Linked DNA regions of Homo sapiens. The protein of the gene in region 1 purifies or fractionates together with the protein of each later gene. This does not show direct contact. Each region holds a gene or a part of one and is shown in the gene's direction. Other genes may lie near its edges.

Region 1 (3,500 bases):
GTAGTAAAAAAAAAATTTTTTTTTGGCCCTCAATCCAGGATGCGGAACACTCAGATCCTGTGGTATGGACGATGAGCAGTGAAATGTTCAAAGGAATATTTTGTTTTCTAAGCAGTAAGTCTCAATGCTAGGCTTAAAATATTCAGTAAACCAAGCTATATACAGGTGCTCTCATCTAGCTTTGTTGCTTCATTCATAGAACATAGGCAGAGTCGATTTAGCATCATTCTTAAGGGCCCTAGAATTTCCAAAATGGTAATTGAGGAGAGGCTTCAGCTGAAAGTCACCAGCTACATTAATCTCCAACAAGAGAGCCTGTCCCCTTTGAAGCTTTGAAGCCAGGCATTGACATCTCCTTTCGAGTTATGAAAGTTCTAGATGACATCTTTTTTCAATAGAAGGCTGTTTCATCTACATTAAGAACCTGCTCTGTTGTGTAGTCACGCTCATCAATGATCTTAGCTAGAGCTTCCGGGTAACCTGCTGCAGCTTCTCCATCAGCACTTGCTGCTTCACCTCACACTTGCATGTTATGGGGACGGTTTCTTTCCTTAAACCTCATGAACCAACCTCTGCTCACTTCCAACTATTCTTCTGCAGCTTCCTCACCTCTCTCAGCCTTTAGAATTGAATAGAGCAAGGGCCTTGCCCTAGACGAGGCTTAGGTTTAAGAGATTGTTGTAGCTGGCTCGATCCTCTATCCAGACCACTAAAACTTTCTCCACACTAGCCACAAGGCTGGTTCACTTTCTCATCACTCATGTGTTTGCTGAAGTAAGACTTTTAATATCCTTCAAGACCCTTTCCTTTGCCTTCACAATTTGGCTAACTTTTGACCTAGCTTTCAACTTGTCTTAGCTTTGGACATGCCTCCCTCACCAAGCTTAATCATTTCTCACTTTTGATTTAAAGTGAGAGACGTGCAACTCTTCCTTTCACTTTAGCACATAGAGGCCGTTTGGGGTTATTTATTTATTTATTTATTTATTTTTGAGATGGAGTTTTGCTCTCGTTGTCTAGGCTGGAGTGCAATGGCACAATCTTGGCTCACTGCAACCTCCACCTCCCAGGTTCAAGGGATTCTTTTGCTTCAGCCTCCTGGGTCGCTGTGATTACAGACCTGCACCACCACGCCTGGCTAACTTTGTATTTTTAGTAGAGATGGGGTTTCTCCATGTAGGTCAGGCTGGTCTTGAACTCCCAACCTCAGGTGATCTGCCCACCTCAGCCTCCCAAAGTGTTGGGATTCTAGGTGTGACCCACGGCGCCCGGCCCATTGTAGGGTTATGAATTTTCCTAATTTCAATATTGTTGTGTCTTCAAGGAATAGGGAGGCCTGAGGAGAGGGAGAGAGAGGAGGAGATGGCTGATCAGTGACAGGTTAGAGCACACAGATTTATTAATTAACTTCGTCATCTTCTACAGGTGATATTTGTGGCACCCCAAAGCAAAGCAATTATAATAGCAACATCAAAGATCACTGGTCACAGATCACCATAACACATATAATCAAAATGAAAAAGTGTGAAATATTGTGAGGATTACCAAAATGTGACGCAGAGACAGGAAGTGAGCATATGCTGCTGGAAAAATTGGCACTGATAGACTCGCTTCACACAGGGTGCCACAAACCTTCAACTTGTGAAAAATGAGTGCAATATCTATGAAGTGTAATAAACCAAAGTACAATAAGGTAAAGTGAGATAAAATGAGGTCTGCCTGTCACTTCCTCCTTGAGTGGCGGGCGGGACCTTATCCTGAGATGTGTAAGGCCTGGAATGGTTTTTGTTTTGTTTTGTTTTGTTTTGTTTTGTTTTGTTTGAGGAAATTGCTAATCAGAGACTGTCAGTGCCAGAGCATGTAGAGCCGTCTTTTGGGGTCCCTGGGAGGACTGGGAGAGCCCTGGGATGGGGGCTTTCTGGTGTTATTTCTGCTCCTCCATCTCACTGCTGTGAAACTAGGACAGGACTGGCTACATGATCTGGGGGCCCAGTGCAAAGTGAAAAGGTGGGGCTCCCTGTTCAAGACTTTGTACAAATCTAAAGACAGTAACAACAAAGGCTCAAGCTGAGCTCGAAATCCTTCCAAGAGCGGGTCCCTGTGGAAATGCCCAGGCCACGTGCCCATGAAGCTGATCCCCCATCTTCTCTTCCCTAGGTCGTCGTCCCGCAGACACACAATCCAGAAGTCACTTTCCTCGAGACATTGGTCAGCCCATCACTCCCAGCCACTCGAAGCTCACCCCCAAGCTGGAAACTATGACTCTTGGAAACAGGAGTCACAAAGCTGCAGAAGGCAGCCACTATGTGGATGAAGCCTCACACGAGGGGAGCTGGTGGGGAGGTGGGATTTAGTGCACAGCCTCACGTGGGGCTTGGACACAGGCTGGGGGTGGGCGCATGCTAGGGAGACTAGCCTGCTGCTCTCTGCATTCCTTAGCGTCTTGTTTGACCTGCTTGCTTCCAGACATAACCTGCATGAATCAGTTTTGGGGGAATGGACCTGGCATGGGGATGGGTTCAGGCCAGGTCTTTTGATGGCCAGGAGTAGATGACAGGGAGTTGCCTTGGGGAACCTTTGGTGTGCCAAGAGGAGGTGGGTAGATGGGAGTGGGGCTCGGTCCCCCAGGCCCAGGGGACTCTCTCCACTCTTTCCTGGGCTCGGGGCATCTGCCTGGAGTTACCTTCCATCATGGCTACCTGCTGTGGTTTGAATGTTTGAGTCCCAACAAAATTCATATCAAAACATAATCCCAACTGGGTGCAGTGGCTCACGCCTGTAATCCCAGCACTTTGGGAGGCCGAGGCGGGCGGATCAATAGGTCAGGAAATCCAGACCGTCCTGGCTAACATGGTGAAACCCCGTCTCTACTAAAAAAAAAAATACAAAAAATTAGCCGGGCGTTGTGGCGGGCACCTGGAGTCCCAGCTACTCCGGAGGCTGAGGGAGGAGAATGGTGTGAACCCGGGAGGTGGAGCTTCCAGTGAGCCGAGATCGCGCCACTGCACTCCAGGCTGGGCGACAGAGCGAGACTCCGTCTCAAAAAAATAAATACATAAATAAAAAATAAACCAACCATAATCCCCAGTGCAGTGGTATGAAGAGATGGGGCCTTTTGGAGGGGATGGAGTCAGGAGGGCGAGTGGGATTGTGGGATTAGCGCTGCCATGAAAGGGCTTGAGGGAGCCTGTTAGTCCCGCTTGCCTGTCCGCCATGTGAGGATGCAGTAACAAAGTGCCATCCTTAAAGCCGAGACCAACCCCTCATCAGACACTGACTCTGCTGGCACCTTGATCTTGGCCTTCCCAGACCCCGAAACTGTAAGCAATAAATTCCTGTTGCTTATAAATTACCCAGGGTGAGGCATTTTTTTATAGCAGCCTGAGCCAACTGAAACACTGCCCCACTCTCTCCTCACCTGAGGTCTCACTTCCTCAAGGCCCATTGTGGCCACCTGACCTCCTTATCACCCGACCTTTCTAGAATCTTCTCTCCTCAGC
Region 2 (3,500 bases), on another chromosome or scaffold:
GAAAATGTTACCATCTTAATGGTATAAAGTCTTCCTATTCAAGAACATGGGACGTGTTTCCATTTATTTAGATCTTTTAAAATTTCTTGCTGGGTGCAGTGAGTTATGCCTATAATCCCAGCACTTTGGGAGGCTGAGGCAGGAGGATCACCTGAGGTCAGGAGTTCGAGACTAGTCTGGCCAACATGGTGAAACCCCGCCTCTACTATAAATACAAAAATTAGCCGGGCATGGTAGCAAGCGCCTGTAATCCCAGCTATTCGGGAGGCTGAGGCAGGAGAATTGCTTGAACCCAGGAGGCAGAGGTTGCAGTGAGCCGAGATCATGCCATTGCACTCAGCCTGGGCGACAAAAGTGAGGCTCCATCTCAAAAAACAAACAAACAAAACAAAACAAAATTCTTTCAACAATTTAGGTACAAAATTTTCAGGGTGAGACTTGCACTTCTTTTGTAAATTTATTCCTAAGTATTTTATTCTCTTTATGCTATTGGAAATGAAAATTTTTAATTTAATCTTTTGATTGTTAATTGCTAGCAGATAGAAATACAATTGATTTTTATAGGCTCTGAACCTGCCCTGATTCTCTGACAGACCTTGGACAAGCCTCCTTTGCCCTTTGAGTCTAAGACTCAGAGTGAATGAACAGATTGGATTGAGTTGGTGGTTCCAGTGATCCTCTTTAATAATTTACCTGCCTACATTTTTTAAGGCCCACGTTTTGGAAGGAATTTTGGTTATAAGATTTCACTTAATAAATATCTTTTTTTGTGTGTGTGTGGAGACGTAGTCTCGTTCTGTCACCCAGGCTGGAGTGCAATGGTGTGATCTCGGCTCACTGCAAGCTCCACCTCCTGGGTTCACGCCGTTCTCCTGCCTCAGCCTCCCAAGTAGCTGGGGCTACAGGCGCCCGCCACCACACCCAGCTAATTTTTTTGTATTTTTAGTAGAGACGGGGTTTCACCATGTTCGGCAGGATTGTCTCGAACTCCTGACCTTGTGATCCACCTGCCTCGGCCTCCCAAAGTGCTGGGATTACAGGCATGAGCCACCACGCCCGGCCTAGTATCATTATTTTTATTCATCAAAGACACACACCACGGGCTGGGCACGGTGACTCACACCTGAAATCCCAGCACTTTGGGAGGCGTAGGCAGGCAAATCACTTGAGGCCAGGAGTTTGACACCAGCCTGGCCAACATGGTGAAATCATGTCTCTGCAAAAAAAATACAAAAATTAGCCAAGCATGGTGGCACGCACCTGTAGTTCCAGCTACTCAGGTGGCTGAGGCATGAGAATTGCTTCAACCTGGGAGGTGGAGGCTGCAGTGAGCCAAGATCGCACCACTGCACTCCAGCCTGGGTGACAAAGCAAGACCCTGTCTCCAAAAAAAAAAAAAAGACACACACCACAATCTGTCAGAGTATATGCTAAACAACAGGTTACAGCCTAAAAACAGTAACAAATACTTGACTTTTTAGTTTGCCTAGTAAAGCCCTGTAGGTCATAAAAATACAATTCTATCAGACTATTTGAACTACTGAAAAGATATTAGCAAGTCCCATTAATATCTGACAGACCCCGAGGGACTAATTGTGCTGCCACAGGCACCTGAGGGGTTCCACATGTTGTTATCAGTAGCTGAGTTCATCCTGGCACCAGTTCTCACCCCAGATGCTGATACCCCCGCCCCCACATACACAGAGGGTCACCACACTGAATGTTCTCTAAGGAACCTTCCAGTTCTGAAATCCTGATTTCTCTCTTTAATCCTTATAGAATAGTGAGGCAGACTTTCAATAAGGAGATCAAAACCATGAAGAAATTCGAATCTCCCAACATCCTGCGTATATTTGGGATTTGCATTGATGAAACAGGTAAGGAATGCTTCTAGGATTGGTCAAGCTTTGGATGGCCTAGAACACACCTCCTGTGTTTTAATGTGTTGCATTTTTTTAAAGAACATCACAAAGGGTGGAATCCACAAAGTGTGATTATTATCAATGTTAATTTTTTTTTTTTCATCCCAAGATGCATGTTCTCATCTTCTTTCAGGAGGGCAGGGCTGAAGGCTGAGGGGTGGTTTGCACTAACATGGCCACATCTTCTCCTTTCAGCCCACTGGGAAATAAGGGGGTGCATGTTTAGATGCCAGCCTGGAAGAGGGGTGCATCTTGTTGCTCTAAAACATTATAAAGCTGCCAGGTGCAGTGGCTCACACCTGTAATCCCAGCACTTTGGTAAGCCGAGACAGGCAGGTCACTTGAGGTCAGGAGTTCAAGACCAGCCCAGCCAACATGGTGAAACCCCATCTCTACTAAAATACAAAAATTAGCTGGGTCTGGTGGCAGGCATCTGTAGTCCCAGCTACTCGGGAGGCTGAGGTGGGAGAATTGCTTGAACCTGGGAAGCGGAGGTTGCAGTGAGCTGAGGGTGCACCATTGCATTCCAGCCTGGGCAACAGAGCAAGACTCCGTCTCAAAAATAAAAATAAATTATAAAGCTGTCTGACCCAAAGAAGGAAAACACCCTTGGTCATCATTAGTATAGAACAAATCTAAAAGCAAAATTAACTTACCTGGCCAGGCGCTGTGGCTCAGCAGCACTTAGGGAGGCTGAGGTGGGTGGATCACAAGGTCAGGAGCTTGAGACCGTCCTGGCCAACATGATGAAACCCCGTCTCTACTAAAAATACAAAAAATTAGCCGGATGTGGTGGCACATGCCTCTAGTCCCAGCTACTCGGGAGGCTGAGGCAGGAGAATTGCTTGAACCTGGGAGGCGGAGTTTGCAGTGAGCCGAGATCATGCCACTGCACTCCAGCCTGGGTGACAGAGTGAGACTCTGTCTCAAACAAACAAAAAAAAAAACCATTACTTTACCCCTCTACCAAGAGCCTTATGTGACAGGCTCTTTTTTTTTTTTTTTTTTTCTTTTTTTCCCAATGTGACTGCATTTTCTCTCATGGAATGACCCCTCCTGCTGGTCATGTTTTGCTGCCGTCTTGCCTAGAGATTGGACAGAGCAACTCCTGTCTTATCCCCTTTGGAAGTTGCTCCACAGCCTCAGGCCAACTTGATTTCAGAGTGTGGAATCCCAATCTAAAGGGAAACGTAGGCCAGGCACGGTGGCTCACATCTGTAATCCCAGCACTTTGGGAGGCCAAGGTAGGTGGATCACCTGAGGTCAGGAGTTTGAGACCAGCCTGGCCAACATGATAAAACCCTGTCTCTACTAAAAATATAAAAATTAACTGGGCGTGGTGGTGGGTGCCTGTAGTCCCAGCTACTCGGGAGGCTGAGGCAGGAGAATTGCGTGAACCTGGGAGGCGGAGGTTGCAGTGAGCCAATATCATGCCACTGCACTCCAGCCTGGGTGACAGAGCTAGACTCTGTCTCAAAAAAATTAAAAAATAAAAAATAAAGACAAATGTTCAGCAACGTTTGTTCTCCTTGGGGACCGCTGAGGTGCCTGGCTCAGTCACATGTCAGTTTTGCAGCT
Region 3 (4,063 bases), on another chromosome or scaffold:
TTTTGTGTCTTTTATACTTTTGCGTTGTGTCGATTTGTAAAATAAGTAGGAGCTAATTTTCAAAAAAGATTTAAAAGACTTATTCCTGGTGATGTTTCTTTATCTCTCTCTTTCTCCATTTTGTCTCTATTTTAGAATGATCCTAAAACACAAAAAACGTACTTTCAATGGCCCAAATCATGGAGTGGCTCAGGGAAATGAAATCTGTCTACAAAAAAAAAAAAGTTGAGAATCCTTGTCTTTTTTTCATCATACAGTTTTTTTTTTCTTTTGGTATCACCATTACTTCTCCTAAAGTCACGACATAATATCACCTACAGCAGAAATGAGGACTTCAGTGGAATTGACATCTCCTTCCATCAAGCGCATTTGCAGTCCATCTTTAGCAGGACCTCTCTCTAATGGCTAAGGCTAGGCAGAAGAATTTGAAGACAGTCTGGTTTCCATTTTCCTAATGCAGCCTGGCCCAAGAGCCAGGACTCCCATAAGACTAGTCTACTGTGGGAGTCAGGGTCTTTTCCACGTGTGGAGGCTAGTGTTTGATGCTGGACGGCCTGGAGTAAAGGGCGAAGGGGAGAAGGTAACCAACCAGGCTGGCCTCGGGATTCGCAGAGGAGGGCTGGGGCTTTGACTTCTGCAGGGAGGTGAGCAGTGTGGCCAAGGGCTACTCAAGGAACGCCTCTGCGAGAATTCAGACTGTGGTTGAGCGCACAAAGCAAGAGTGTGCGAAGAAAAGTTAACGCCTCTCCCAGCTGACCCCAAAATCTGCTAATCTGGGCCTGACGGAAAAAATTCGGAGAAGAACCACCTCGGCCGAGTTACGTGAAAAGGCTGGGTACGAACTACTCTGGCTCTACTTGGGGCGCCGGCTCAGAGCGATGGGCAGGACGTCCGCGAGGAAGAAAGAGTGACGATGATTTTTCAAGGAGTCTGAACCAGCTCACCCAGCAAACCCTCCTCCCATCGAGCACCCAGCGTACAATCATCGAAGGGCCGAGGGTCCTGCCCTCAGTCTCGATGGCGGCCGGGGCGCGCCCCGGCCACGGCGCACGCGCCGGCCTCAGCGCTCCCTCCTCCATGCCCTCGGCGCACGGCGCCGCCCACTCACCCAGCTGCACCTCTCCGTGCGTCCCCAAGCTCACCCGCTCTGAGGCTGCCCCCGCTAGTCTAGCTGCCGAGCCCGGAAGTGGATGCAGCCGCTCGGCGGAGAGGACGAGGGGGAGGGGGAAGTGCTTCCGGGGAAACGGGCCGGGGTTGGTGTTTGTAAACTTGCCTCGGTCCCGGTGGGGGCAGCCGCGGCGGTGGGGTTGGCAGGGTGTGCTGGGGCCTGGAGGAGGCGCCGCGCGGCCAGGGAGCCAGCGGGAGGCCGCGCCTGGCAGGTAGGAGCAAGCCCCAAAGACCGCAGCGTCGTCCGTACAGACGGCAGCGCTTCAGTAGCTCGCAAGCCGTGGGGTGCCGCGCGGGAAGGGGGAGGGGAGGGGAGGAGGGGCGCGTGGCGAAGGGAGGGGGATCTCCGGGGGAGGGAGGGGAAAGGCCGTGCGCGCACACCGCCCCCTGCCCGCGCGTCCCGCCGCGTCCCCGGCCCGGGAGAGGGCTCTCGGAGGGGACGCGGGCGCGAGCACGCATCTCGCGCGCTTCTCGGCACTCTCCGGCTCTGCTCCCGGTTGGTGCAGCGGGTGCAGAGGCTGGCTGGCCGGAGCGAGGCGGGCGACACGCCGCGCCGGGCTTCGCCTGCCTGTCCTCCACCTCCGCAGCAAGTTTCCCTACCTTCGGGCGGACGGGGAGAACGCACACGTGTGGGCACTGCCAGTCCCGTTTCTGCCCGCCACCGAAGCACCCAGCGATGGCCCTTGAGCTTTCCTCCACCCTAGTCTTGCCGCCTCTGTAAAGTGCGAGCTTTTCGGGCCGGCCCACTGGGCACAAAAGCCCCAAAGGGTCTCCGCCCCCTTCTTCCATTCCTGAGATGGCAAATCCAAGCAACTTTCCTTTTGGCAGAGTTCCTCCATAGGAGGCCCCAATTACTTTTGCTCCTGTTGGCTTCCACTCCTTGCCCAGGAGACCAGTTCCTCCTATTGACCTAGAAAGAAAACTCTTCTTGACTCATGTCCTCGTTCTGAGCTTCACAGAGAGCGCCCAGCAAAAAAAAAATTCATATCGCACGTTGTAATGGCCTGAAGATGTTGCATTTAGCAGCCCCCCTCTTCCTTTCTGGTTTCAGGTTTCTGAAACAGATCGTGAGCTTCATCAAGAGAATTCAACTGGAAAACCAAGACTGGTAGACTCTCTTTTTCTTCAGACAATAGGCAGGAGCCAGGCAGAGTCCAGGGATTCTTGGAACACCTATCTTTTCTTCGGAGGACACTAAGTTCTATTTGAAGACAAAGTTCAATATGGCAACAGGACTGATGGGACACGAAGGAGTCGCTACCGTGATTTGGTGACAGTTCTTCAAAACGACAGTGTCTCAAGGAAAGGTGGACCTAGGAACTCCTGAACTTTTGGGTTGCCTTAAGTGAGAAATCAGCATGGCTCAGGTAAAAAGCTCTAGAGTCCTCCTCCAAGATAACTGGGAAGCCTGTTTGCAGTTTCACTCTTGAATGCTGCCTTAGTCAACATATTGACCAACCCCAGTGATCCAAGCTCTGTATTAAGCACCAGGGGGAGATCTAGAGGAAGGAAAGGAGACAGGCCACAGCCCCTGCCTTCAGGGAGCTTCCAGTCAAATGAAGGAGGTAGGCTATACTGCATCACAGGCACTGATGGGACATTTGCAAAGCAACGTGTACTCAGTTTACATTTGGTACATTAAGTGCTGAGGGGTGTAAGGGAGTGAATAGTACGGTGAATGCTTCTTTTGTTTTTTTCCAACAGGAATTTATTGAGTTCCTGTTGCATGCAAGGCATTGTGCTGGGAATACAAAGATGAATACGATTGTCCTTGTCCCCAGTGAGCTTCCAGGCTAGTTGGGGTCGGGAGAGGGATGGAAAGCCATTTATTTTTATATTCACAATGCCTTGTATAGTGGCTGGCTAGTAGTAGAGACTCTGAATCTGTTGATTGAGGAATGTGCAATAATAGGGGTATGTACATAGGAGAGAACAGTACTTCTGCTTGGATAGAAAAAGAAGATGGAGGTTGAAAGATGCATAGGATTTTGCTAAACAAGCGAGAAGGGTGTTTGGACAAAAGGAACAGCATGGGCAGGAGCTTAGAGTCATGGGAAAATGTGATGAGGTTCCGAGTACTGCAGGTTGTTTGATAGTTACGGAGTAAGGGATTTAAATGGGGATAGTTATGGAGGTAGTATTGACAGTGATAGGTGAGGAAGTTGTTCCCTGCAGTAAGCAGAGTGTAACCCAAAGGCCTTTTATGCCTCGCTAAGTTAAGCAGCAGAGTAGCATCAGATCAGTGTTATGTAGAAGGTCATTATTGTGGAGGTAGAGGATGGACTGGAGAGACAGAATGAGCAGATAGGCTGTTGTAGTCATCTGAGTAGAATAGCTATGTGCACACATCTCCAGAGCTTCTCCCAGCTTGCTTCTAGGGAACCTCCCTACCAGTCTCACCAGGATGGCAGTCTGATTGTAGTATAATTGGCTTTCCTCCAGCTGCTTCTGAATGCACAGCTTCCTCCTTTCCATATAGAATAGGAGCCTGTCAGTTTCTTCTTCCTTTGTGTTTTGCAACCCACTTCTCAGCATTGTATTCAGTCTTCTGAGAATGCTGCCTTCCACTAAGGACTGAACTTTGTGCTAGACACTGTTAAGCGTTTTACGTCTTAGTTTACTTTTCATCAACCCTGTAAGGATAAGCATTATGACAGGCATTTTTCATGTAAGGAAACTAAGGCTTGCAAAGGTGGAATAACTTGCCCAAGATTATAGAGTGCAAACAGCTGAGCTAAGATTTTAACTCTGGATCTTTCACTCCAAAGTCCCAGAAGGTGGAGGGAGGGGTCCCAGAACGTACTGATCATCTAAAAGGAATTTCTTCATAAATTTGTGAGTTTGCTGACCAACGATTTCTTAAAATTTTTTTTTTCAGTAAGAAAAGTATTTTCTT
Region 4 (3,500 bases), on another chromosome or scaffold:
ATGATTAGGAGAGAAGTTCCTTAACATGAAGTGAATTTATATTCCAAACTATCAGTTAACATTAAAACTTGGTGGTAGATTATTAGCAGCAGAAATTTAACGTGAACACTCCAGTTGTTACAATAAAATACGTAGCAGTAAACAACAAGAAATATGAGGGAAAGTAGAAAACTATAAGGAATCTAAAATATTTGATTAAAAAAAGAGACCTGTGATATTGGGGTTGGGGATTTTTTAACATATTAAAGATGGGATTTTTCCCCAAATCAGTCTATGGATTTGATTTTATCTAGTCAAATACCAGTACAACTAGTTTTGAGAAGTGACAGGATTACTGTAAAATTAATTTGAAGAAGTGGCTTAAATTTTTTTGAAAGAGAATAACAATGTTTGGGGGCAGTGGGAGGAAGACCTAAATGTATTTGATAAAATGTACAACATACAAAGCCATAATAATTAAAACAGTTCAAGACTGGTAGGAGAATAGGGTTGGATTCAGTAGAACAAAATAAAAAGTTCAAACATAGTTCAAAGTATATATAAGTATTTAGACTATAAGGGCATGTCAAATCAGCGGGAGAAGGATGGATTGTACAATAAAGGAGGGTTTTTCAAACCAAATGTCATAATTTATGTGTGAGTTATGAAATCAATTTAGTGGACTATGAGTATAAAACAGGAAAGAAAACATTTGCTATTACATAATAAGGGTGAGTGTTGTTTTTTGTGACTTTAGTTTTTGTTCATGTGTATATGTGTTAGGTTATGATATAAAGTGTATTCCTTAATGTGGATTATAGTTTGAAAAGTTTGAAAGCCAGTGCAATAAATGGTATTTTCACAAATAGCTAACCATTTGGAGAAAGCATTCAAAAAGGATACAAAAATATACAGACAGAATAAATGAAAGACTGGACTAAACTATGTCAGTGGAAAAATGTAAGAATAGTAGTAGTAAGTCATTCAATAGAGGAGAGTTCAAAGCAAATGTATGAAACAAAGTATACAAGGTTGTAGAATAACAGCAAATAATGAAAACATTATTAAATGTATATAACTCAAAAAAGCCACTTAATAAAAACTGTTAGAAATTAAAAAGCAAATGATAGAAATACAGTAGAAAGATTGACATTTTTAATCTTAAATATGCCATAAATATGGTAAAAATAAAAGATTATAAAAAATGAAATACAGAGGATATTGAATGTTACCTGTCCCCAAATATATGTTTTTGATGAATGTAAAAAAAATTAAGGCCAGGCAAGGTGGCTCACACTTGTAATCCCAGTACTTTGGGAGGCCAAGGTGGGCAGATCACTTGAGGTCAGGAGTTTGAGACCAGCCTGGCCAACATGGTGAAACCCCATCTCTACTAAAAATACAAAATTGAGCGGGCGTGGTGGCACGTGCCTGTAGTCACAGCCACTCGGGAGGCTGAGGCAGGAGAGAATCACTTGAACCTGGGAGGCGGAGATCGCACTGAGCCAACATCATGCCACTGCACTCCAGCCTGGGTGACAGAGTGAGACTCCATATCAAAAAAAAAAAAAATTTCACTTCTGTCACTTACTGTGTAACTTTGCACGTAAGATCTATAACTTATACTATTATATGAAAAAAGAAACTGACTTATTTCTTTCTGTTTTTAGAGGACTATTTTAACAAAGGGAAAAATGAGCCTGAGGACAGTAAGCTTCGATTCGAAACTTATCAGTTGATATGGCAGCAGATGAAATCTGAAAATGAGGTGAATACTTTTTTTAATAATTTTCTGTAACACCCTAAGTCTCATTTTTGTTGCATCTCATCTTCCTTTCCACCAGTTTACAAGAGTATTGATGAAATATAGGAAGTATTGGTCAAGCATAGCCTGTATATCCTTAAAAAAACAACCATAATCCAGCCTGGGCAACTTGGTGAAACCCTGTCTCTACAAAAGCTACAAAAACTAGCTGGGCATGGTGGTGTGCACTTGTAATTCCAGCTACTCAGGAGGCTAAGTTGGGAGGATAACTTGAGCCTGGGAGGTGGAGGTTGCAGTGAGCCGAGATAGTACCACGGCACTCCAGCCTGGGCAGCAGAGAGAGATCTTGTCTCAAAAACAAAAACAAAAAAAACTCATATTTCTTGTGAGTGGAACAGATGTTTATGATAGCTGTTAAGGCAAGGAGCTTTCAAATGGTGACGCTCTTAAATTATCCTTTCAGGTATACAACTGTGAAATCAAGCTGTTTCTAAACTCCTTCACTTTCTCATCTTTATATTCCAGCTCTGAAACATTTCTTCACTATAGCAAATTGGTAGCTCTAGGGCCAGCATTTTAGGCTGACAACTTTTTTTTTTTTTTTGGCCAACACAGTGTTGTAGTTTTTGGTTTAATTGCCTTTCGGAAGGTTATATACTTTCCAGTTTATTACTGCCGCCTACCAGTCCTTACTGATTTACACCTAGTGGTAATGAGCAAAGGCTCATTCACGTATTCCATGTGATCCTTCAAGGTATTTGAATTTGTGGTTTCCAGTTTAGGCCGTCTTCATTTCTGAATCTGGATTGTTATATCCTCCTGACTGGCATCCCTGACACCATTGGCCAAATTAGAAAAGACCCTTTTCAAGGCAAATGCAGCCCAATTCCAGGCAACCCCTCCAGCCCTGTTGCCAGATTAACCCTTCTTAACCCTGATCCAATTATGTCTTTACTTCACATCCCTTCAGTGGTGCTCCCCATAGGACAAAATCCAAACCCTTTAATGTCATATATCATATATATATTATATATTATATATATATATACACGTTTATATATATATACACATATATAATATATATATATATATACATATATATATACAATTTTTTTTTTTGAGACAAGGTCTTGCTCTGTCACCCAGGCTGGCGTGTAGTGGCATGATCATAGCTTACTGCAGCCTTGACCTCCCAGACTCAAGTGACCCTCTCACCTCAGCTTCCCTAGAAGCTGGGACCACAGATGTGCACCACTACACCCAGCTAATTTGTCTTTTATCTAAAAAGATGAGGTCTCACTATGCCGACCAGGCTTGAGAGGGAATTTTTAATGGGGGAACCCAGAGCACTAATTACTAGAGATTTAAGGAAAAAACATTTTTTAATTAGGTTCATCTTTTGATCATTTTACATCATTGAATCCATGACAATTTTCTTTCCACAACCAGGAAAGACATCAGATTATTATTTCTAATAATAATAAGTTTTTGTGTGTTCTTTGTAGCGACTACAAGAGGAATTAAATAAAAACTTGTTTGACAATCTGATTGAATTTCTGCAAAAATCACATTCTGGATTCCAGAAGAATTCAAGAGACTTGGGCGGTCAAATAAAACTCAGAGAAATTCCAACTGCTGCTCTTGTTCTTGGTATATATGCGTATGTTTGTTCATGCATGCATCTCTGTGTATTTCGTTTTTAAATTTTTTTTTATTGTTGAGAATAGTGGAAGGACCTGTTTTGATGAGCCTATTT

What was found. The genes of interacting proteins can lie anywhere in the genome.
Region 2: the proteins of ZBP1 (region 1) and MLKL purify together in Homo sapiens (affinity purification with western blotting, with the first as the bait; one study listed by BioGRID). This does not show direct contact.
Region 3: the proteins of ZBP1 (region 1) and ZNF740 purify together in Homo sapiens (affinity purification with mass spectrometry; one large-scale study listed by BioGRID and IntAct). This does not show direct contact.
Region 4: the proteins of ZBP1 (region 1) and ORC3 purify together in Homo sapiens (affinity purification with mass spectrometry, with the first as the bait; one large-scale study listed by BioGRID). This does not show direct contact.

What each region holds. Positions count from the first base shown.
Region 1 is NC_000020.11:57,603,427-57,606,926, reverse strand, and holds the end of ZBP1 (Z-DNA-binding protein 1), read left to right. Parts: exon of another isoform or gene 1-114; intron 115-1,425; exon of another isoform or gene 1,426-1,514; intron 1,515-2,157; coding exon 2,158-2,354; 3' UTR 2,355-3,075; downstream 3,076-3,500.
Region 2 is NC_000016.10:74,683,863-74,687,362, reverse strand, and holds part of MLKL (mixed lineage kinase domain-like protein), read left to right. Parts: intron 1-1,779; coding exon 1,780-1,877; intron 1,878-3,500. UniProt on the Homo sapiens protein: Pseudokinase that plays a key role in TNF-induced necroptosis, a programmed cell death process. Does not have protein kinase activity.
Region 3 is NC_000012.12:53,179,459-53,183,521, forward strand, and holds the start of ZNF740 (zinc finger protein 740), read left to right. Parts: upstream 1-1,263; 5' UTR 1,264-1,379; exon of another isoform or gene 1,380-1,467; intron 1,468-1,767; exon of another isoform or gene 1,768-1,893; intron 1,894-2,218; 5' UTR 2,219-2,525; coding exon 2,526-2,534; intron 2,535-4,063. Other genes in the region: CSAD (cysteine sulfinic acid decarboxylase), read right to left, coding at 319-350. UniProt on the Homo sapiens protein: May be involved in transcriptional regulation.
Region 4 is NC_000006.12:87,600,135-87,603,634, forward strand, and holds part of ORC3 (origin recognition complex subunit 3), read left to right. Parts: intron 1-1,649; coding exon 1,650-1,747; intron 1,748-3,249; coding exon 3,250-3,394; intron 3,395-3,500. UniProt on the Homo sapiens protein: Component of the origin recognition complex (ORC) that binds origins of replication. DNA-binding is ATP-dependent. The specific DNA sequences that define origins of replication have not been identified yet.